2 separate regions of the Homo sapiens genome follow, and region 1 is linked to region 2. Evidence: fine-mapped expression QTL. A gene starts in region 2. The other region holds a variant in brackets. All regions are shown on one strand. Distances are between the middles of the regions. Region 1 overlaps CTSC (cathepsin C). Region 2 holds the start of RAB38 (RAB38, member RAS oncogene family).

Region 1 (10,898 bases), 110 kb before region 2:
GGCACAGTGGCTTATGCCTATAACCCTATCACTTTGGGAGGCTGAGATGGGTGAATCTCTTGAGTCCTAGAGTTTGAGACCAGCCTGGGCAACACGGCGAAACCCCTTCTCTATTAAAAATACAAAAAATTAGCTGGGCGTGGTGGTGTGTGCTTGTAGTCCCAGCTATTCAGGAGGCGGAGGTGTAAGAATCACCTGAGCCCAGGAGGTCAAGGCTGCAGTGAGCCGATATCATGCCACTGCACTCCAGCCTGGGCAAACGGAGTGAGGCCCTGTTATGAAAAAAAAAAAATCTGTACTTAGGCTTTCAGATCAGGCTGTATGTGATGTATGTCGAAAACACAGCTATAATTGATTGAGGGAGAAACGTTACCATTTTAAAGTTTATGCTTTCAAGCCCAGATTTGGCCACTAGGAATTTCCCAGCTCACTAGTGAAACTGCTGATGAGTGATTATTTGCCAGTGAGCCTTTCATTCTTTCTAAAATATGTACTACTAGTTGTGACTTGTAGGCTATAGGGGCTATAATATATCAAGACAATCTTTATCCTCATGAAGCTTACAGTTAAGTAAGAGATAGAGATTAAATAATTATAACAACAGAGTGAAGAACAGTGAAGAAAAAGTACAGAGTTATAATATATATAATAGGGCCAGGACTGCATGAGGAAGGTAGGAAAGACATTTCGGCAAGAGGTTGTCAGGGAAAAGACTTGCTTGAGAAAGAGCCAAGTTGTGGGGTCTGGCTGCTTAGCAATGACCATAATACCTAACTTTTGCTATTTTTACATGAAGTAACTAATTTAACCCTATGAGGAAAGTACTACTACCATCTAGATTTTACAGGTAAGTAAGCAGAGATACAGAGAAGTTAAACTCTTCACACGGCTTTGGCTTTAAACCTATATAGGCTTCAGAGCCTCCCCACTTAACCACTTTGCCATAGCTACATCCATATTAGGTGCTAAGTAGATATCTGTTAAGTAGAAGGAGGATGAAAGGATAGTTAGCTAGTTGGAAAATGGATGGATGAATGAAGTGATGCTTAAGCTAAGAACAACTTTCAGGGGTAACATGCAAAGAATAATGGAGCAAAGAAGAAAAAATAGAAAATGGGATAATCCTTTTTCTACTAAGGGGTAACCATGTGTGTTATTCATCTTCAGGCTGTGAAGGCGGCTTCCCATACCTTATTGCAGGAAAGTACGCCCAAGATTTTGGGCTGGTGGAAGAAGCTTGCTTCCCCTACACAGGCACTGATTCTCCATGCAAAATGAAGGAAGACTGCTTTCGTTATTACTCCTCTGAGTACCACTATGTAGGAGGTTTCTATGGAGGCTGCAATGAAGCCCTGATGAAGCTTGAGTTGGTCCATCATGGGCCCATGGCAGTTGCTTTTGAAGTATATGATGACTTCCTCCACTACAAAAAGGGGATCTACCACCACACTGGTCTAAGAGACCCTTTCAACCCCTTTGAGCTGACTAATCATGCTGTTCTGCTTGTGGGCTATGGCACTGACTCAGCCTCTGGGATGGATTACTGGATTGTTAAAAACAGCTGGGGCACCGGCTGGGGTGAGAATGGCTACTTCCGGATCCGCAGAGGAACTGATGAGTGTGCAATTGAGAGCATAGCAGTGGCAGCCACACCAATTCCTAAATTGTAGGGTATGCCTTCCAGTATTTCATAATGATCTGCATCAGTTGTAAAGGGGAATTGGTATATTCACAGACTGTAGACTTTCAGCAGCAATCTCAGAAGCTTACAAATAGATTTCCATGAAGATATTTGTCTTCAGAATTAAAACTGCCCTTAATTTTAATATACCTTTCAATCGGCCACTGGCCATTTTTTTCTAAGTATTCAATTAAGTGGGAATTTTCTGGAAGATGGTCAGCTATGAAGTAATAGAGTTTGCTTAATCATTTGTAATTCAAACATGCTATATTTTTTAAAATCAATGTGAAAACATAGACTTATTTTTAAATTGTACCAATCACAAGAAAATAATGGCAATAATTATCAAAACTTTTAAAATAGATGCTCATATTTTTAAAATAAAGTTTTAAAAATAACTGCATTATGGAGTTTATGTTTACTTCAGGGAATTTTTATCACTGACTCAGTAAGATTCACTTATGTTACCTATGTAAGCATTTATTTAAGAAGGAAAAGCATTTGAAGATATTTCAATTAAAAACAAAACTATGAACCTTTATGACAGGGAGATATACTCAGATAATGCCTAGTGAATCCTAAAATTATCCTTGGATGTTTGATGAGTCTGAGACCTCAGAGAAAAGAAATAAGAGTTTTGACAAAATCTGGATATTGGTGAATTTATTTTCTATGGTGTGTATCTTGTATTTGGGAGTATTGCTTAGTCTTCAGTAGGTGAGCAATAATAGCTTAATGAGTGAAATACTAGCAGCTTAGATTTAAATAGATTTTTGGAATCTCCCAGAGATATTTCACAGTGGATATGAAACCTCTATGCTAAGTAACATATGCCTTCTCTTAGAAATTATGTAACAGGAGAATAAGGCAGTCAGAGCTCTGAAACATAAACACGGACCACAGCCTTTTCAAGCTGGAAAGGACCATAAAGATCATGTAATTTAAACTCTTTGCACAGATAGAGACTCAACTTAGAGGGCAAGAGATGTGTCCAAGGTCACACAGCTGGCAAGTGATGGAGTCATGCTTAAAACTTAGATCTTCGAAACCGAGTTCTCTTTGAGCACCTTCGAGCACTGAATCTCAGCATTTCCCACCAGAGTATCTGCAATCACCAGGGATACTAGCTGCATGCTTGGAAATTTCACCTTAACATTCTGAGTTTCAGAGTTTTGTGCAAAACCCACGTATTTTCTGCATTAAAATTCACTATAATGATGTTTTTACCCTCCTTGAACTGCAGTAGGGCTCCAGGAGTATGCACCATTTAAAGTTTGGCTTCCTGGACCTCCTGGCATGCTGCCACATACCTTTGATCTTTTCACCACATGGTGGCACAGAAACAGCACTGGAAGGCATAGCCAGGGTCGGAATCATTGGAAGGCCTCCAAGGAGATGAGATACATTTTCTTTTTATTGTTACTGATTGAATGTAATTTCCATCCTATTTTGTGCCCAGCCTCACTGCTATGTGAACATATAAACAGACCTTTGAAATCAAGCATAAGTTTTTTTTCACTAAAATTCATGAAGATACTATCTGTCAGTTTAACAAACACAATTCTATTTAACATGTAAGCATGAATTTATTCTCTAGTTTTCCAGTTGGACAGCAGTCGGCTGACACATGAGAACAACTCATCATGATGTAGAGTGCCTGTGATTTTGCACTATTTCATGAGGGCCCTGACTGGCTCTTAAGTAAATTCATTGCTGGTGTCATTCATTAAATACTTTAGGAAATATTAAATGGCTAAATACTGGTGTGAACCTAACTGGCATGGAAGTCAGATTATACAACATGTTTGCTTGAGGACAAGCAATGATTTGAAGAGGCCCTAAGTTTTCAGAGATTATGAGGGATTGCCCAGAATAAGAACTTAAGATAGACTACATTTCAACTTGGATTTATCTACTGTCGAAGTCTGCTTTTCCTGTTTCTGTATGACAGAAAGATCATTTATATCATCCATGTTGCAGATTTCATCAAATACAGTGACTAAATGGAACATTAGGGTTCCACAAACCATGCGATTAGACTGTTAAGCTGTACAAAAAGCAGTTGGTGTCAGTATCTAGAACTTTTTATATTGATGCTAATAGAACACATACTCGGAGTCTTTTAACAAATGGAGCTCTAGAAAAAAAAATCAGATGGGAACTCTGGCTAACCTCCCCAAAGACATTCCCAGAAAATCTACAAGGATTATCTACATAAATGATGCCACAGGTCACAAAGAAGAAAAATAATATTTAGCTGGGCAGTCTAACACAAGCATAATATTGACTCTGGAGCTGTAGTGCCTGGATAAGAGTTTTGACTCTGTATCTTATTAGCCATGAAACCTTAGGCAGTTTCCTTATCTACCTATGCACTGTGCATCCTTTCTTTCTTTCTTTCTTTCTTTCTTTCTTTCTTTCTTTCATCTCTCTCTCTCCTTCCTTCCTTCCTCCTTCCTCCTTCCCTCCCTCCCTCCCTCTTCTTTTCTTGTCTTTCTTTACTTTTTCTTTTTTCTTTTCCTTCCTTTTCCTTCCTTCTTCCTTCTTCCTTCCTTCTTCCTCCTTCCTTCCTTCCTTCTCCTTCCTTCCTTCTTCCTTCTCCTTCCTTCCTTTTTCCTTCTCCTTCCTTCTTCCTTCTCCTTCCTTCTTCCTTCTCCTTCCTTCCTTCCTTTTCTTTTCTTTCTTTTCTGTAAAAGTAGAGAAAATGGCATAGATATCTCTCTCACTGTCCGAATTTCTGACTTTTTTTTTGAGTCATGCTCACTGCAGCCTCAACCTCTTGGGACCAAGCCATCCTCCCACCTCAGCCTCCTGTGTACCTGGGACCACAGGTGCATGCCACCATACCCGGCTAATGAATTTGTCCTCTCTGAACCATTACCATTGCAACAAAGGAACTAAATGTATTTGTATTTGCATTTTTAACAGCATTACTTGCTATCTAAACTCAGGCCCTTCATCATTCCAAATGGAGGTGCTAAAGATAATTAAAGACAATGCAGTTTCCCTGATCATAAAAACTTGCTCACAGAACTCAGGAACTGAATAGATTTGGATAGTAAGGAATATGTATACATATTTCATAGAGTTCTCTGAGGGTTAAATGCCATATATATATATATATATATATATATATATATATATATATATGAAGTATATAGAACAGTGCTTAGCATATGGTAAGGAGTAAATAAATATTATCTTTTTCTGAACTCAAATTGTAAAATAATATTTTGCTATGAGGAATCAGATAAGATGTATTCTATAAATAAGCTCTATGACAAGAGGATAGAGAAGGGCTTATGAGGGGTTTTTTGTTTGTTTTTTTAAGGGCGAAAAGAACCTACAGAGGAACACTAGCACAAGGAAAC[G/C]CACAGAGAAAAGCAAAAAGCTTTATGAGTTAGGCATATGGTTTTAATTTTATTTTTTACTATAAAATTTTTTTATCCCTCACTACCACCATTCTTGTGTTGCTGCCTGTGGGAAGAGAACAAGTCTGAGAGGTGATGGAGTTTGAGAGACTACCACAGGGATGAGTAACAGGACCCAGCCAGGGAAAAGACATTGCAACTTTGAAGTGAAAAAGACTGAAGGTAATGTAAAGTCATAATAATTTGATTTTCCTATTCAGGTTCTAAAAGCATGAAGATAAAGTAAGCATAACAGATTCACATCACATTAATGCTGGAAGGTTATCTAGTCCACCTCTTGCTAAAAATGGGCCTTGAGAGGTGAAGTAACATGCCTGAGCTTCCAGCTAATAAAGATAAATCTATGCTTCAATATGTCCAGAACTTTCTATTGTACCTGCTGCCTTCCAATTAAGAAAAATGGCAAAATAATGTTTCCATTCTTAAATGTTGTGAGACCAGTAACCTCACCTTGTTCTTTAAAATCATTTCCAAGATTTGTGCCACCTCCCAGAAATCCTGTTCTCATTTCTTTGGGGCAGGTACTCTGAGTGCCAATCCATGTGTGGTGGTTTGGAAAGATTAATATAACAGTTTTCTTCTAAATATAGTGATGTTAATATAGTTATATCTCTTAACTCTAATGAAGGTTTATTTTTGGTTTAAAGCTAAGTAGAATCTTCCTGACCAAGTTTGGGGAGCTTTAGATATATCAGAATCTTCTTTGATGGGCAGCACATGGACTTAGAATTGTGTATTGGTAGTGGGTCAGTTAGTCACTGGGCCTAATGAAATATTAACTGTAAAGTATTGACCTCATTGAATTTTAGTTCCGATTAAAAGTGCAAATTTGCGTGAAATTGCCTGGGACATAAAATAATTGGAACTTCAGCAGACTTTCTGGTCATGCCATACTATGTCCTCCTAGTGATAGGAAACTGGAAATTCAGGAGATAAACTAACTCAGGCAGAAAATGCAGCACATGCCTTTTGTGTGTGTGTTTTTCCTTTTTCCTTTGAGAAGTCCATTTTTCAATATCCCTTTTCTTTAAATCTCTTTTAAGAGTTAGTAGAAGAAATTTAACCTCTTCTTTTCCAACTTTGAGGATGTGATGCTGATGTAATACTTTGGTTTTTAACTTTATGTTCTTAAAGACAATTTGTCTTCTTGAAATTCAAGTCTGTAGGTGGTTAAATGGGGAAAGAATGTGATAAACTTCAGACTCCCCAAGTTGAGAAAAAAATAGCAGACTTCTTTCTTCCTCTAATGCAAAAGGTCTTAAAGAGATTGAAATCCTAGCAATCAATTGAAAGAAATAAGTTAGAGAAATAGCTTTCTCCTGAGGAAATGAGGGAAACGCCATAAAACTAAGCGTTGTGCATTAAAGTAATCATTGAGATGATTTTTTTTTTCTGTAATGTATTTTCTGGACCTTCAAAAGTATTGAATAGTTTCACTGTAGTTTAAGATAAATGACAGAAAATAAGTGCTTTTAGTATCAGATTTTTATACCTTCATTCTCTCTTTTTGGGGGTTTCTGAAGAACTAAAAGTCTGCTTTTCTTTTAGATTGACTATTTCTATGCCACTATAAGAAATGGGCACTATTCCCAAGAGATAGCAGGTGCAATCCTAGTTCAGCAGGCTAAAATTCAGTTGGGTGAGAAGGATAAGCCTATGGAAAGAAAGTAAACAAAACAGCATTGTGCCACTAGAGAACCCAGAAATAAATTCATAGATTTTCAGCCAACTGACAAAGTTGCCAAGAACATACACTAGGAAAAGAACACCCTCTTCAATAAATGGTGCTGGGGAAACTGGATATCCATGATGTGGAGGAGAATGAAACTAGATCCTTATGACTCACCATATACCAAAGTCAACTCAACATGAATTAAAGACTTAAATGTAAGACCTGAAACTATACAAATACTAGAAGAAAACATAGGAAATGCCCAAGAACTTTAGCTTAGGCGAAGATTTTATGGTTAATATTTCAAAAGCATAGGCACACAAAACAAAAAGTATACAAATGGAGCTATAGTAAACTAAAAAGCTTCTGCACGGCAAAGGTAACAACCGACAAAGGGAAGAGACAACCTGTAGAATGGGAGAAAATATTTGCAAATGATTCATTCGACAAGGGACTAATATCTGGAATATAAAAGGAGCTCAGACAACTCACCATCAAAAAACAAAAACAAACGTACAAAAAACCCAAACAATCTCCTTAAAATGTGAGCAAAGTATCTAAACAGACGTTTCTCAAAAGAAGACATACAAATGGCTAGTAGGTATATGAAGAAATGCTCAACATCGCTAATGATTAGGGAAATGAAAATCACAATGAGACATCATTCCAGTTAGAATGGCTATTATAAAAAAGACGAAAAGTAAAAAGACACTTGTGAAAATGTGGAGAAGAGGGAACTCTTATGCACTCTTGGTGGTAATGTAAATTAGCACAGCTATTATGGAAAACAATATGGAAGTTTCTCAAAAAACTAAGAATAGAACTACCACATGATCCAGAAATTCTACCAATGGGTATTTATCCAAAGAAAAATCAGTATATCAAAAGGATATCTGCATTCCCATGTTTATTGCAGCACTCTTCACAATAGTCAAGATATGGAATTAAGTCAGCTGTCCATCAATGGATGAATAAAGAAAACATGGTATATATACACACTATGGAATGCTATTGGGCCATAAAATAGAATGAAATCCTGCAATTTGCAGCAACATTGATGGAACCTGTGGTTATTATATTAAGTGAAATAAGCCAAGCACAGAAAAACAAATATTGCATGTTCTCACTCATATGTGGGAGGTAAAACAGTGGATCCCATGGAGGTAGAGAGTAGGATAATGGTTAACAGAGGCTGGAAGGGTATTGGGGGAGAGGATAAAGAGATGTTGGTTAATGGGTACAAGCATTCAGTTGAAAGGAATAAGTTCTAGTGTTTGATAGCACAGTAGGGTAACTATATTTAATAATAATATATTGTATGTTTCAAAACAACTAGGAGAGAAGATATGAAATGTTCCCAACACAGAAATGATAAATGTTATAGGTTATGTATATGCTAAATACCTAGATTTGATTGTGACACATTTTATGCATGTATCAAAATACCGTATGTACCCCCATAAATATGCACAAATGTGTACCAATTTTTAAAAATAGCATTGTGGCACAAAAATGTCATGGTCTTTGGAACCAGAAAATCCTGATATTGAGTCTTTGCTCCACCAATGTTTGTTATTTGGACTTTGTTCAGTTATTGAACAGAGATTTCTAGTAGTCAGTGTCTTTGCCTGTTAAACAGCGTTGCTAATATCTTTTTTCAAGGGCTGTGCCAAGGTTTAAAAGAAGCAACGAGTGTTTACATATAACTTGCCTTGTTTTAAAAAAAGATTTAAAGTGTTTTGCAAAGGTTAAGACGCAATGTAAAATAAATTAAAAATAAGTGAGTGAACTGAATTAAAGGGAAGATAAACGTAGGAAAGTAGGATATACCCATGAAATAAAAGCTATATAATCTAGTACATTACCTGATACATGGGGATCATTCTTCAACGCTGGTTCTCAACTAGAGGTAATTTTGCCCCTAATGTTGGTAGACATTTGGGGTTGTCATAACTGGGGCGAGGATGGGAGTGTGCTACTGCATCTAGTTGATAGAGGCCAGATATACAGCTAAATATTCTATAGTGCACAGGACAAGCCTCCACATGAAGAATTAACCAGCCCAAAATGTCAATAGTCCTGAGGTTGAAAAAGTCCTGTCTACAACATGCTAATTCCTTTATATACTTTCCCAGCACCAAATGAATGTTATATACTTTGGAAGAGGGAAAGAATTCTGAGGGTTGAAGTAATCCCAGAAGCTTCCAAAGAGAATCTGGAACTTGAGCTGAGCTTTGAAAAAGCAAGAGGCGTAGTAAAAGGCATGGGAGGCCAAGAGACTGTGGGAAGATAGAAGCAATGAGAGAAGATTAAGACACTTCCCTTCAATTTCAAGGTGACAGATTGACCCCATTCTGCAGTAATCCCCACCCAACAGAACCTACTGACATGACTATAAAAGGTATAAAATGTATTAAATACATGGCCACAATTTATAAGAATAGAATGTCTTAATGAACCAGAAGTTGTGATAAACCCTTATAAGAAAAAGTGAGGGGAGCAAATGGGAAGTTATTGTGATAATTGAAGGCCCAAGCATGTGGGAAAATTCTGCCATAGAAGATGAAACCATTCAACTCACCCAACATTTCATCAAAATAAAGATGAGAAGGAAAGAGGTAGATTGTAACATCTTTACTTAAAGCATTGATCCTTCATGCCTGCTGGGTCATGAGCTGCTTTGAGACTGCTGAAAACTATGGATACTTTCTCCAGAAAAGTTCACTTACTTATCCCATATTTGCATAAAATTCCATTAGGCTTATGAAGATGTGTAAGCCCCAGTACTGGCAGTAAACTTTTATGTGTATGGGTGCCTCTTCCCCTAGGCAGTAGCCATTCCAAAATGCCAATATTGTTACTATTTAAAATTTTCTTTCAGTTATAGGCTGGGAGGAACCATTGAAAAGGCTTGGCAGGTGAGATTCAGGTGGCTAGACCGGTTAGGTAACTCAGCTTTGAGCCATAATCTCATCCGGGGTCAGACCTGTTGGGAAACTGAGCTCTCCATTTGTTCCCTGACCCTTAGTGGCTCTCTCAGTCCTCAGCCCTTTGTCTGTTTCTCTGGGGTGGAGATGTAGTCTTACTCATGCTATCATTGTCTCTAGAGCCAAGACTCTGACCAGTAAAATCCCACCTGGGAACTAGATTCCTTCTGCCAATGGAGAGACTTTTTAAAATGCTCACTACATGCTGTCAAGAATTGGGCATTTTGTGCAGCACCTGGATTCCCCATCATTGTGCTCCTGCTACACCCAGGAGCAAACATTATCTTCCCCCTGCCCCTCCCCTTGAACCTGACTGCTGCCTCTTTATACCTTGACTGTCCCCTGCAGCAGCTTCACCAAGTGGATACTTTATTTTTGACCCAGTTAGTTTTGCCTTTATTGGTAATAATAATGATAGCTGCCATTTATCAAGGTCTTACTTTGTGCTAGGTGGTATGGTAAGCTCTTTGCATACAACGTCTCATTGAATTCCTGGTATAGATTTTGTTTTACACATAAGGAATAAGACAAGCGAAGGAAGTCATCCATTTTCTTGGGATTTGAATCCAGGTCTCTGTTCTAGCACCATAGCTCTTAACCATACTTCCCTCAAGATGTTCTTCCTGTGCTTTTCCCAGGAGTTTGTTGATATTTCAGGTCCTGATCTCTTTTGTTCTTCCTTATCTTTTGTAAGAAACTATCGTAATTGCACAAGTCCTGAGAAATAAGAAGACACCTTCAGCATCTTAAACTAGAATAAATAAAAGAAGGGTGGCCTCCTAGAATTTAAGTCAGGAGGGAGGTGGTGGGCAATGGATGACAAGCTCTACTTTGAAGAGGTTGAATTTCAGCTGACCACTACTAAAGCAGTACAAGCTTTTCCTTTCAGCAAGTGTCTTCCCAGAAATGTGATAGCAATTTTTAGGAAGAATTTGGCAAACATAATGTTTAGCAGATTTGCAACAAATGCTATAAGCTCAAATTTTTTTTTTTTTTTTTTTTGGCAGCACACTCAGCCCTCCAAGGGGAAGTGGATTATTTTTCTTGCAAGTGCATTAGCAAGGGAGGTATTAAGGACAGCAACATTCCTTCCTGTATAAAAAAATAAATAAATAAAAGAAGAAAGA
Region 2 (13,107 bases):
ATTTGTCAATTTAAAAAGTAAAAAATGGTATTACATTATTGCTTAATTTTCATACTTTTATTACTATCCTAGTGAAAAATACACTTTTCACATTATTGGCTTTTTGTTTGTCTTGTGTGGTCAATTGCTTATTTATATCTTTATCTAATTTAGTGTTTAAAAAATTATTAGAACAATTTAATATAAGGTATATTTCCTTTTGCCTGTCTTAAATGTTGTAAAATTTTTCTCATTCTGAAAGTATCATTTTTCTTGCTTCTGGTAATTGTTAATGTCTACACGTTTAGTTTTTTTTTTTTCCTTTTATTATTTCTGCCTTTCACATAATATTCAAAGGTCCTTTCTCCACAATAATAATGCATAAATATTCACCTTTTTGTTATAATAGTAATTTTGTGAAGTAGTGGAAATGCTGTCAGGAATTTGTCTGAGATGGGTAACAAAGAGAGAGGAATCAAGAGTGACTGAGTTTTTGAGCTTGGTAGACTTTGGTGAGGGTGGAACCACTGACCAAAAACCAGGAATACAGGAAAGGGAACAAGTCTGTTAGGGTAGATAATGAGTTCAGTTTTGCACATGTTGCATTTAAACTGTCTGCCAGAAAGCCTGGTAGAAATGCCCAACGGGCAGTTGGAACAAGTTTATGGAATGCAGGAGTAAGGTTGTGTTTTAAATACAGATATAGAAATCATCAGCAGACATTTGATAGTTTAACAACATGTTCTTTTCAGTGCATATCCTGGGCCAAGCACTATGCTAAGCACTTCACAGAATTTTATTTGGTCTTCTCAAAAAAAAAATAGGAGGTTAAAATTATTATCCTCATTTTATACATGAAGGGACAAGCTTGCAAAAGTTAAACTACTTTACAAAGTTCTTATGACTGGGTAGTGGTAGAACTTGAATGTGAAATCAGGTAAGCTCACCTGATTCCAGAGTTCCTAACCCCATTTGCTCTATTGTCACAGGAGTAGATGAGCTCAAGCAGGGAAAGTCAGAGTCCCAAGGATGAAGAATAGCAAACTTTAGTGGATGGGCAGAAAAGAAGGGAAGTTGTGAAGGAGTCTAAGAAGGTCAGAGTGGAAGGCAGAAGGTCATGTGTATACATGCTGATGCTTTAACCAGAATGGAAGCATTTTTGATGGCAGGGACTTATATCTTATACACTCTTTGAGATAAACGTGAGACCTTTCTTCTGACCCTGATCCTCAAAAAACTCTGTTACAATGCTTTGTACATAAATATTTCTTCGTTTATGCTGTGATGGTCTGTCAGTAATTTTCTTGCGTTAACCTTCTGAGCTAGACCCTACCAGTCTCTCTGTCATCACCCATTATGGAATAGGGGTTCATTCACTGTACAGCCTCAGTACTATCCTATCGCCTTCTCTGAGAGCAACAGAAGTAGATTCCTTGTATATGCTCTCTATGTGCACTGGGTCAGACCTCTCCCCACAAATGCACAGCATGCCACTTTTACTTGTGTTGACTTTCTGCCCGAGTTGGTGAGAGATTATGGGATATATCCTTTTATCTTTGAATCATAGATTTTTCTTTTCTTCCTTTATTGGCTGTTTCCCTGCATAGTTAAGACTTTATCAAATGGAAATAGAATCAATCTCTTTTCTTTATAGCCTGAATATTTAGTAGCATAGCAGAAACAAAGCTACAGTAGAAGCCTGGACCTGGAATTTATCACATGCTAAAGGAGTGTGGTATAGTAGAAAAAGCACAGATTTAGGAATTACTGGTTACGATTCTCATGCTGTCACTCCATATCTGTGACTTTGGAAAAATTATTTAAATTCTTTGAGCCCTATTTCCCTCATTATAAAGTGAAGATACTTGCTACAGAGTGGTCGTGAAGATCAAATAAACTTACCAAGATAAAGGGCTTAGCTCATTGTAGGTTCCCAGGATAAGGAAGTTGAAATTCTAGTACATACAGAATCATTTTTCTCCATGTTCTCAGATGCTTGCCTTTCGGCCATTCCATAGCTTATTTCCACTCATCCATGTTAGATGTGTTAGTAGAAAAATACACCCCGATTCAGCCATGCCTGTCTGGCACAGCTAAGGCACATAATTTTAGTTGGTGATAAATACACTGCTGAAAATGGTTTAGGTCATACTCTGGTTTTCTTGATTCATACTACTGGTGGGTTAAAAAATGCACTTACAATCAGTTTCTCATGATAACCCGTAAATATCCTATTGTAGTCTTTTTTTTTCTGGAAAAAAATCTAGCCAGAAATTTCTCATAGACTGAAGAGTATTTATTTCAAGAACATCCCATACAGAATCCATCTTGGCCTCTCTCCAAATAACCCAAAAGTTGCTTCCTACTTCTAGACATCTGCTGCAATCCTGAATCAATACTAGATGACTCAAATTGCAAGTTAGCACAGGTTTCAGACAAGCCTAGTGGGTAAAGAGAGAACTTTTTGAAGACAAGAAAGAAATAAGCTGCAACTTTAACTTGGCAGACCTATTTATTAAAATTGTGGTTTAGGAGAATTTTCCAAAGCCCCTATAGCTGTAGATCTCATTTGAGAGCCTCAACTTCTCCCTCTTCTTTAGGAATGAATATTCTTTAGGAAAGTCCTGGCTTGTTCCTGTTGTTTGGTGTAATTATTCATAGTGCCCCCTTTCACTCTCAAGAGTCATAGTTTGAATGATAAAATATATGGTCATTTCTTCCAGGCCTTTTGCAGAGTAAAATTCATCTGTTGTAAGATATATTTCTTGTATTAATCTAAGAAAAATTAGATTACCTTTTCTATAACAGAGCCCTTGGGACCCCATCTTGCAGTCATTTACATATTTCTTCAGAGCAATAATTAAAAGCTCACATAAGCTAATGAATAACTCCCCATGGCTCTCTTAATGGCAAAAGCAAATAATGTGACTTCACAGGGGCTCACCAAACACAGCAGCTCTAGGAGGAAAACATGAGGGTTTGTCCCTTCAAGTTTACATTTGCAAAGCAATTTGCAATCATTGTAGTTTTTCCATTTCATAAGACTAAGTACCCACATTGGACAGAAAGGGAATGGAGACTAAGAGAAACCTAATGCTGTGCCTTCTGGGATATCATTCTTGGCTTGAATTCTGAGCACTTTGTGGTCTCACACACCTTTTACAAACTTGAGTCATCAGCCTTCCCGACCTTGGTGAGAAGATGTGCTGTGGTTTAGCAATTTGAGGGTAGTAAGCTTGTCAAAACATCACCAGAGATGTTTTGAGAATTACTGTGGAGAACAGGTTTCCATGGTGCAGTGTGGCTGCTGGGAGGGGGACGAATGGCACAGCTGTTCTCTCCATGGGGAGGAAGCACTGGATCTTTTGTGTCAGAAAAAGCTGAGATCCTCCTGATAATCCTAAGCCATCTTGACAGGTATATGTTCAGGTTGGGGAAGATAGGTTCTGAAGAAGCATCATAATTGCAGGGGACAGGGTTGAATGAAAGAGGAGGCAAGAATGGTCTAGCTGCTTGATAATATCCTTTCCATCTATTCACTGTCTGGCTTGATCCAGTTTATAGTTTGTCCCTGGCTACCTGGCTCCCTGTCTGCAGCCTAGTTCTGAGTGTAGAAAATAAGTTCAAAGCAAGGAAGGGGAGTACATGAAGGTTTGTCCTCCAAAAAGAATGTTCTTGGATTGCCTTTGTCTTGTGGGAAAATGTACAGCAGCAGAGGAAAGAATAGCACCATGAAACCAGAGGAGAACTATGGCATCATGTTTGCTTTGAGATGGCCTTTCTTCCAAACCTAAAAGAGGAGAGAAAACATCACCTCTTTGGCAGTGGTGCTCTTGTGGGGTGACTAGAATCAGCTAGGGTGTCACTCCTACTAGACAATGTCTAGAAGACCCAGAATTCTGATATTTTAGAGTCCAAAGGACTTTCCAGAGATCTTGCAACCTAACTCCCTCATTTTACCCAAGGGACTTTCAGGTTCAGAGACCTAGGCGCCTTTTACGAAGATTTTACTGAACTGCTAGGCTGGGGTGCTTACCAAGCTACTGTAATCTAAAAGTCTTAAAAATATAAACCGAGAGTAATTTCTTCCCACTGTGAAGAATGATCATGAGACCTAAATGAGTACGGCTGGAAACAAAACTGCACATACTTCCTGCCTGGCCAAGGAACTTGCTCACCATGGTTGGCTGCTGTCCCTGAGAGAGGAATCTCCTACCCCCAGAGAGGCAATAAAACTGAAGCTTCAGGACCCCTTCCAAGGCCCTAGACCTAATTATATATTTTTGATTTTGCATTCTTTTGCTCAAAAAGCTACTTCCTCCAATTTTATCAGCTTCAGGACCAGAAATCCTGAACTTTGCCCTGCCTGTCCTACCTCATAAATCCAAATGTCTGATGTTCCAATATGCTCTTGCTCAAAAGAGAACAGATAAGGGTGAGGATGACTCTGCCGGGACCAGGCTTGGGAAAACAGTACGGGGCTGGTAAGAAAGTTGGGTTGGGTATAATTTTGAAGGCTGGCCCACAAGATGTCTCAAACTCCTACCTTGTTTCTACCCCAGGAGCTTGTTGGCCAGACAAAGCCTGTCTCTCAGATTTACAGACCCAGGATTTTAGAGCTGGCAAAGGTCTCATTTTGTCATCCTCCCTAATTTTGCAGGCATTTAGAATGGCTTAAGCATCTTGGGCTACTGAATTCCCCTCCCTGGGAAGTGAGGTGACATTGTTGGCTAATTCTTTAAGCAGGTAGAGTATTTGTCTCACTTGTTAGATGTGATCTTCTTGGTGTGTCCTCGCATGGGTGGAAACCAGTAAATGAGGCCTACCCAGCTAAGCACTTCAATAAAACACAAACGACTGCAATTCTACACACTGTCACTTAGTGTCCATTCTGAGCAAAACTTCTGAGTTACTCTCTGAGGAAAGATGAAACTGCACAGGACAGTGCCTGTGGACAGTATTTTAAGCTTGTCCCTCATTTCATAGTAATAGCTACAATTTATTTACCACCTACTATGGACCCAGCATTTTATCAACAATTTCATTTGTATTTATTTATTTATTTATTTATTTATTTATTTAGAGATAGAGTCTTGCTCAGGTTACCCAGGCTGGAGAGCAATGGTGTGATCTTGGCTCACTGCAACCTCTGCATCCCTGGTTCAAGATAGTCTCCTGTCTCAGCCTCTCAAGTAGCTGGGATTATAGTCACCTGCCACCACGCCCGGCTAATTTTTGTATTTTTAGTAGAGACGGGTTTCACCATGTTGGCCAGGCTGGTCTTGAACTCCTGACCTCAAGTGATTCACCCACCTCAGCCTCCCAAAGTGCTTGGATTACAATCATGAGCAACCATGCCCTGCCATAGGTATTATCATTCTCCTTTCGTTGATGTGGAAACCAAGGCTCAGAGGTTATGTGACTTGTCCCGGGTACACATCTTCAGCATCCCTCTGCTTGTTTGGGGCATGTGGAGGCTAAAGTTTAGGGAGTGTCAGGCCAGAAGAGGAAGGCAGAAAGACAATGGCCTTGCCAAACCTCCTTTCTCCCTTTCACACAGGCCTGTGTTTAAGTCCTAGTTCTAACACATACTAGTTATGTGTGCCCTTGAGAAAGCTGCTGTTAATCTTGGTTTCCTTATTTATAAATTGAAGAAAATAACCCACTTCATAAAGCAATTGAGAAGATGAAATGATAGAATGTGAGCAGAGCTCCTTCACAGCACATTCAGGTACAAAATAGCTCATTTTGGTATAAACTGCTCACCCCCTAGCCCTGAATGCCCAATTTCTCATTTTCTTTATGTCTTTACTAAATTGTCTCCATCTTACTGAAACCTTCCCTGGCCACCCTATCTAAAAGGCAAACCCCATATAATCTCTTCACATCCCCTTTCTGCCTTATTTTATTACCAATTAATATATGACAAATTGTATTTATTTTGTCTTGTCCTGTCTCCACCCACAAGAAGGTAAATTTTTCTTAGGCCAGTAGGCATTGTCTGCGTTAGGAGGATGATACAGAAATCCTAACGCAGACAATGCCTACTGGCCTCAAAAAAATTTACCTTCTTGTAGGTGGAGACAGACAAGACAAAATAAGTACAATTTGTCATATATTAATTGGTAATAAAATGTATATTGGTCAAATGAATGAAAACAAACAACAAAAACAACAAAAAGAAGTTGGGAACCTAAAGACCTATGTTTGAATTTGGTTTTTTTCCTTACTATTTGACTCTGGGTCCATTACTTAAAATGTCTGGTCCTTAGCTTCCTCATTTGTAAAATAGGAAGAAAAATGGTATCTATTATTAAGACAGCTGGGATGACTAAATGACATAATTTATAAACCCTCTGGCATATAGCGAGTGCTCAATAAATGTTTGCCATTATTATTATTTGTAATAATCTGACCGATTGTTAAAACTGTCTTTCTGTGCAGCTCTGAGTTTTTAGGATATGGGAAGAGGCTAAAAGTCACCAGTGCCCTTGGCATTTTCGGCCCAGTTGTCCTCCTTGTTAACTGATTACCAGTTGAATGGGTGTGAAAGTGCTCAGTGTTCCCACCTCCAAGCTGCTCAGAGGTCAGCATTGCCATTCATTGAGAAATAACAGGCTGTGAGAGCTCAAATGACTTACTTATGGTCCCTCAACTTAAAAACCAGGGCACGCAGGAACCAAGCCCAGCCAGTCTTGGGCTTCCTAATACTGTAATTTCTCTCTACAGTGTGGGGTAGTTAAGAGCCTGTGACTTCAGACCTGTGGTCAACGGGGCCTTTCACCGGCCATCTCCCGCAGAGTACTTTTTCACAATCAGTTTTCTCGCAAGCAAAACGTGGAAAATAAGATCCACACCTCACAAGTTTGTGGCCAGGGTCACAGGTGAAAACAGCTCTTCGGAAACTCTAAAGCGCCGGATAAATAAGCGCTGCAACAGGCAACCACACGCGAACCCCTTTCAGCTGCCAGTCCCGGGACTCGCTCCTGTCTCCTCCCCTCTCCAAGACCGCGGAGTAGGAAGGAGGATTAACCCCTAGGGGAGGAGTTCCGCCCCCCAGCCCCCGCCCCGCCGCCCACGCCTCTCTCTGCACCTACACTTGCGCTCCCCAAGTCTCTCTCGTGCGCAGAGCCCAGGCTGCGCTTCCCTGGTCAGGCACGGCACGTCTGGCCGGCCGCCAGGATGCAGGCCCCGCACAAGGAGCACCTGTACAAGTTGCTGGTGATTGGCGACCTGGGCGTGGGGAAGACCAGTATCATCAAGCGCTACGTGCACCAGAACTTCTCTTCGCACTACCGGGCCACAATCGGCGTGGACTTCGCGCTCAAGGTGCTCCACTGGGACCCGGAGACTGTGGTGCGCCTGCAGCTCTGGGATATCGCAGGTGAGCGCGGGGGGAGGGGGTCAGGGGGATAGAGCGCCTCGCGGCCGGTTTCCAGTCTCGAGGCAGCGGCTTGCGGCCAAGCGTGAGATTAAAATCACTAGGTCGCGAGGCAGTTTTTCCTGGTGGGCTGGAAACTTAGTTTCAAAGAAAAGAAAAACGTCTGAAACTTCAAGTGCATTCCCTGGCGCTTTTGGGCTATTGCTTTAGCTCCTTCCCGCACAGTCCCCTGGGATCTCTCTGCCCAGAGCAGGCCTCCCCAGGGAACCAGAGGAAGATTGTCTGCAATTGCATTCTGTTCTCCACTCCAGCTCGTTTTCTGGGCGCGGGCAGTTCTGCCAATGACGCAGCCCAGTGTCACGCACGTCCTTCCGTGCAGGGGCGGACCGAGGGGAAGCCCCTAGGCTGGTTCACAGAGGAAACCGGGATAGTTCCAGGCTAGCTGGAGTTTGCCCATTCCTGTCTTCAGTGGCTCACTTTATTTCAAATTTTGTCACCTTTCTCTCTGCCCTTAAGACAAAGGAGTTTGAGGGTTTTTGTTTTGTTTTTTTTTTTTTTTTTTTTTGCTTTTTGCTTACAGTAAGCCAAGTACTTTTGTGTGTATATGTCAGGGGCAAAGTATTCTTTCTCCCTCTCTTTCTGTATTTCTATCTCTCTGGCTCTCTGTCTTCTATGAAAAGGAGGTTGTGTGTATATTTTAAGGCCATTTTTATGTAAGGGCCTATGATAGCCTTATGATTTCTTGATTTGGCCCTAAAGTTTTCATTGAGAGATCTGAAAAATGAGAGGTTGTTTGTTTTTGTTTTTTACAATATTTAAAATCAGATTTTGACTCCACAGGTTTGTACCAGAAGTTAGGCCTAGTCAAAAGTGAGGGTGCAATGTATCTACTCCAAGTGTGAATCCTTGGACAAGGCTGTTTGCAACCTGCGCATGACCAACCCCTCATTACAGATTTTAGCCCTGCCACTAACTAACCTGCTCAGTGGCTTTGGACAAGTCTCTTCAGCTCAGTTGCATCGCTGTTAAGTGGAAAGGAGTTGGGCAAGGGTCAAGGATCTTCCTGCTCAGAAGTTTTAAAGTCCTCTGGGATTCTCCATGGGAACAACTTCAAACAGTCTTATTTCATGGTCTGTGACACCAGGAACCTTTCGTTATAAGTGCTGGACCCAAACTAGCCACTTCTGTTTCAGAAAATGGATTCATTTTAGCTGATGCATTTGATTGGAAACTCTTTATCATGGCTTGAAACTAGAACAAATGTGGAAAATTTTTGAAAGGGCATTTGTGATCTGGGGACTTTCGTGCCTCTTTAATCATGAACTGCCAGGCCTTTTTCTTTTAGCATGTGAACAGATGAACAGATTCATGCATTTGGAGTCATCTTCAGCTGCTCTAGTAGCAAGGGGGTTATCAGAGAACAGAAAATGTTATCAGCCACTGTTGGATGGGGCTTTTCATCTAAAAAAATTCTCTCTGTGTACTTTCTTGCTGCATGTCATAATGTCTGAAAACCCTTCTGGCTGCTCGAAAGTCCTCAGGATTCAGATTTAGAAACGGCTTACTGTTTAAACGGGGATGTAGCTGTAATTTGGACTTCTGTGTACAATCCAGGTAACAGCATGACAGCAGAGAAGTTCTATGTCTGTAGATTTCAGTCTCCTCACATAAACAGAAGAGATGGAAGGGTACAGTGATTAATAGCCCAAATTCCAGAGTTGAACTGCCTCCATCTGGATCCTTACTTTACTCTGCATGTAGTAGGCAATCTTAGGTAAGTTCTCTAACCTCCTTGTTTTGGTTTCCTTACTTGTAAACAGGGAGAATGCTTTCTCCCAATAGATGACAGGTGAGCAACCAACAGTGCTAGCTGAAGGTGATCATGCCTGTTCTCTAGGAGATCTGCAAGGATTATTATCACACTAGCTACCATTTTTTTAAGCCTATATAAATGCTAGGCAAGAAGGATATGATATACAAGTGCTTATTAATTCCTAATAAATTGTGATCCCAATATTACATATATATTTTGTCCCCAAGTTATCACCATTTTCAGCTTTGCTCCTGACATACTCTCAGGAGCAATTTAACTCCCAAGCTCGAAAGCACTTCGTTAGCCATGTTTTGTAGACTGAAGTTGCAGTGGAGGCTGTAGTCACAGAAGTCTGTATAAATAAGAAATCTGAAGTCTTGGGAAGTTCATTCTACAGATACTGCGGTGGTGTTACATTCAACATCTCAGTAGAGGAGCTTGTTTTTCCCAGAGCTCTAATGCTCAGTGGTAACCTGTCTTTAGCAGCCTTAAGCCCAAAGGCCCTGTTAGCTGAATTATAGATTGGACAGCAGGCACAGTGAATTGGGTGAAAGCTAGGCCACTGTAGGAAATGGTTGGAACATGCACGTGCTCCATGTTTCATGGTTTAAGCTGCATAGGGAGCCATGTGGGTTATGAGTTCATGTGAAATACAACCTCAACTGCCCACCCAGACTCCAGTCAGCCAGGTGTACCTTATAGTACTTTCAAATCACAGCCTGTCTGTCCACAGATAAGAATGCATCTCTCCGTCCTTAGTGTTCAACTCTGGTGTGTCCCCGGAGAGAGCAGGTAGTGGAGGTTAGTGGGCCTAGCTTTGAGAAGGTTGTGGGTGTTCAATGAGATAGAGAAGACCTGCACTGTTCTGATAGGATATCATATACATTTGTTATTAAGGGAATCTTGGCTCAGCTAGACTCTTGATACTCATTTGGTTCAATGCCAAATAGGGCCCTTTTTAATCTACTAAATTCCCATGATGTGTCTCTTATAGCCATGTAGATTGGCCAGTCTGATCTTGAAAGACTCCAAAAAGTATCTCTGGGGTCTTGTGAAGTAGGCCTTGAAACAAGATGATAAATCCCACCAAACCCCATAGGGGACAGCAGTTGGCCTGGATTCCAGTGATTCCATGCTAGAAGGTCAGCTGTGTGTTCAGAGGCTCCTGATAGAGTCAAAGAAATGAAGTAACTTTGCCTGAGGCCACCCAGCTAGTAGAGGAAGAGCCAGATTTGACCCGGTTCCGTTTCACTCAGAGTCAAGCCTTGCTGTTTGCACTTGCTGGCCTGTGAGTGCCTGGCACACAGCTGGCCCACAGGGATTATGCCTTCTTTTTAAAGGTGTTGTTTCATTAGTAGGTGGGTTAAACTTACCTTCTCCTTTCTAACTGGATTTTTGGTATTATTAAGTACCACTGTGCATTCAGTGAAAAGGAATGAATTAAAATCTATTTCTGAAAATTTTATCTTGATTAGGATGTGAATTTATAGAGTTTTTAAAAAAATAGGTCATTTAGGGAAAATGAAAACAAAAAGTTCACACTTGAGACTCCACTTTTTTATTACTCTCCAAATCCAGAGACTATAATTGCTCATTCACCCTTTCAAAAAGAACTGTACTATCTTGTCTAGAACTCTTGATGTGCTTTGGGACTCTGATCTAGGCATTGGGACATTTATAGGGATAGTAGCTAATATTTCTTAAGCCCTTATTCTTATGAATGTCCAGGCATATTTAATCTATAATTTCCCAGTATAATAGCTGGTTAGGCCACTAGAATTTAAAATTGACCATTGAATCTGTTTTCAAAAGATTTGCTCTACTGTCCTTAATTTGAAAACAGAGCACTTCAGACATAGTTTAAATATATTCTAAATTTAGATACTCTGAAAATATAATTAGGCAAACTGTGAAACCTTGCTGAACCTCAATTGCCTCATCTATAAAATGATGATTATTTAATTTTCCTGTGATACTTATTTTATCTTTTGTAGTCTCTGTAAGCAAAAGGTTTATTATCACTGTCCTCAGGGTATAGGTAGCACATGGTCATTTATTCCAGCTTCTTTACTTACTAGCTTTGTGACTTGTGTGAGTTACTTAGCCTCTGTGCCTTCGTTTTCTGTCTGTAAAATGGGAATAATAACAATACCTGCATCTTAGTATTTTTGTAAGAATTAAATGAGTTAATTTATGCAAAGCTGTGCCTGACACATAATAAATGCTGAATGAGTGTTAGCTATTATTCCTGTTGTCATAATTGTTATTATTACAGACTGTTTTCACATACATTTTCCCACTTGATCTCCCCAGCATTGCTGAGGGTGTAGACAAGCAGATAGTCCTAAACCCAATTTTATTTAAAAAGATAAAAAATGAGAGAGGTAAGAGAGTTGCCTGAGATCATAAGTGGCAGAGGAGAATAGGAACAGTCGGTCTGTTTAGCTTCAGCTTACTTGTATGAGTGAGATAACCAAGTCTGTTGGTAATAAAAAAACCCAATCCAGTTTTATATTGCTATAGTGGAAAATAAATTAAGTTGGCAGACAATTTAGAGAGTGTTTCGAGTGTTTCTTTGCTATGTAAAAGTTTGACTGCAGAGCTCTGCTAAATAACAAATGCCTCTAAATACTTAAAATAAGATCTACCCTATAAGAAAAATATTTCCACTCAAGGCACATCTATACCAGCTTCCCCCACCTAAGCCATGTGACATGACAGCAGAAGAATACATTAACTGTCCCATAGACAAAGTAACAGGATGAAGGCAGCCCAGGCCCAGTGTCAGGAGTCCTTAAACTGACTCTTCACACCAGCAACTCTGACACTTATTTGGGTCACATTGTTATGTTGTTTTAGAGTTTGTGAAGTTCTTTCAGGTTGTGAAATTCAACCAAAGATAGGATTCGGACTTAACTATCTCTTTAGTACCGATTTCTGAAAGACTATTTCTTCAAGCAGTTGTAGAAGATGGGTCTTAAATGTCAAAGTAGTAGGTCTAGGAATGTAGAAAGAGCTAAATTTGGCGATGAGTGTGTCAAATAAAACCCCCCAAAATGCATATCGAGTCTGAGCCATGCTCCACTGGGCAGTTTATTGCCTTGTTTCTAGCTTAGCTAATTACAGATTTTCTAAATGCCACGTAAAATAACATGCTATGTTCTTACGGGTAAATAATGTGTACAGTGAGCAAAAATGGTGAACTTTCAAAGTAGGAATGAGGGATATATGGAGAAAACGCCTCAAGGCAGGACATGTCGTGTCATCTGGGTTTTAGAGGACTGATTCTGATAGAAAAGCAAGTAGCAGCTTGACCAAGGAAAGCTAAGGCATTTGAGAGTGGGAGGGGATTGGAAAAAGTAGCTCTATATGTGTGATTGGTTTCTTCAGCAAATATATGTATGTATATATAAAGTGCCTGGTATGTGAAAGTACTTAGGTGAGGGAAAAACAAAGAAGGATAATAATTGAATAAGATTTACTTCTTCATCCCAGCTTCATCAGCATGATGACACAAAAACAAATCACTGTAACAATAAGTAAAGAGCATTGATAGACATAACTTCAGAACACTCTCATGGTGCAGAGATGTTGTCCACACCTCGTTCTCCTACTCTCTGAGACTAAATCTGAGGAAGTTGACAAAACCTCAAGGCTAGTGTGATGTTTCTTGTGCTCTTACCTAGCACCAGTCATTCCCTGTGAGTGCGTCAGGGCTGCACAACTTGAGACAGAATTTCATCATCTGGCCCTCTAATTCAGTCTCCTTTGCTTGAGGATCTCATGCATTCCCAGGGCTTTAACTCTATGCAGATGACTTTAAAACTATGCCTATATCCTTGACTACTCATGAGCTCAGGCTTACAATTCCATCTTCCTGCTGAACATCTCCTCTACAATATCTCACCTATACTGCCTGTGAACATGTGCATAA

What was found. PIP is the estimated chance that this variant, and not a neighbour inherited with it, causes the effect.
Region 1: its variant is fine-mapped to the expression of RAB38 in whole blood (TOPMed, PIP above 0.99).

What each region holds. Positions count from the first base shown.
Region 1 is chr11:88,284,778-88,295,675 of GRCh38, reverse strand. It overlaps CTSC (cathepsin C), which reads left to right. Exons shown (of 7, transcript NM_001814.6): 7 at 1,168-2,084. The coding sequence ends at 1,670. Among named protein-coding and RNA genes, the nearest start is that of CTSC, 48 kb to the left of the region's middle. The variant G/C (reference allele first, on the strand shown) is at 5,053.
Region 2 is chr11:88,169,439-88,182,545 of GRCh38, reverse strand. It overlaps RAB38 (RAB38, member RAS oncogene family), which reads left to right and starts at 7,103. Exons shown (of 3, transcript NM_022337.3): 1 at 7,103-7,363. The coding sequence starts at 7,162. It overlaps MIR3166 (microRNA 3166), which reads right to left and starts at 6,044; the gene lies at 5,953-6,044.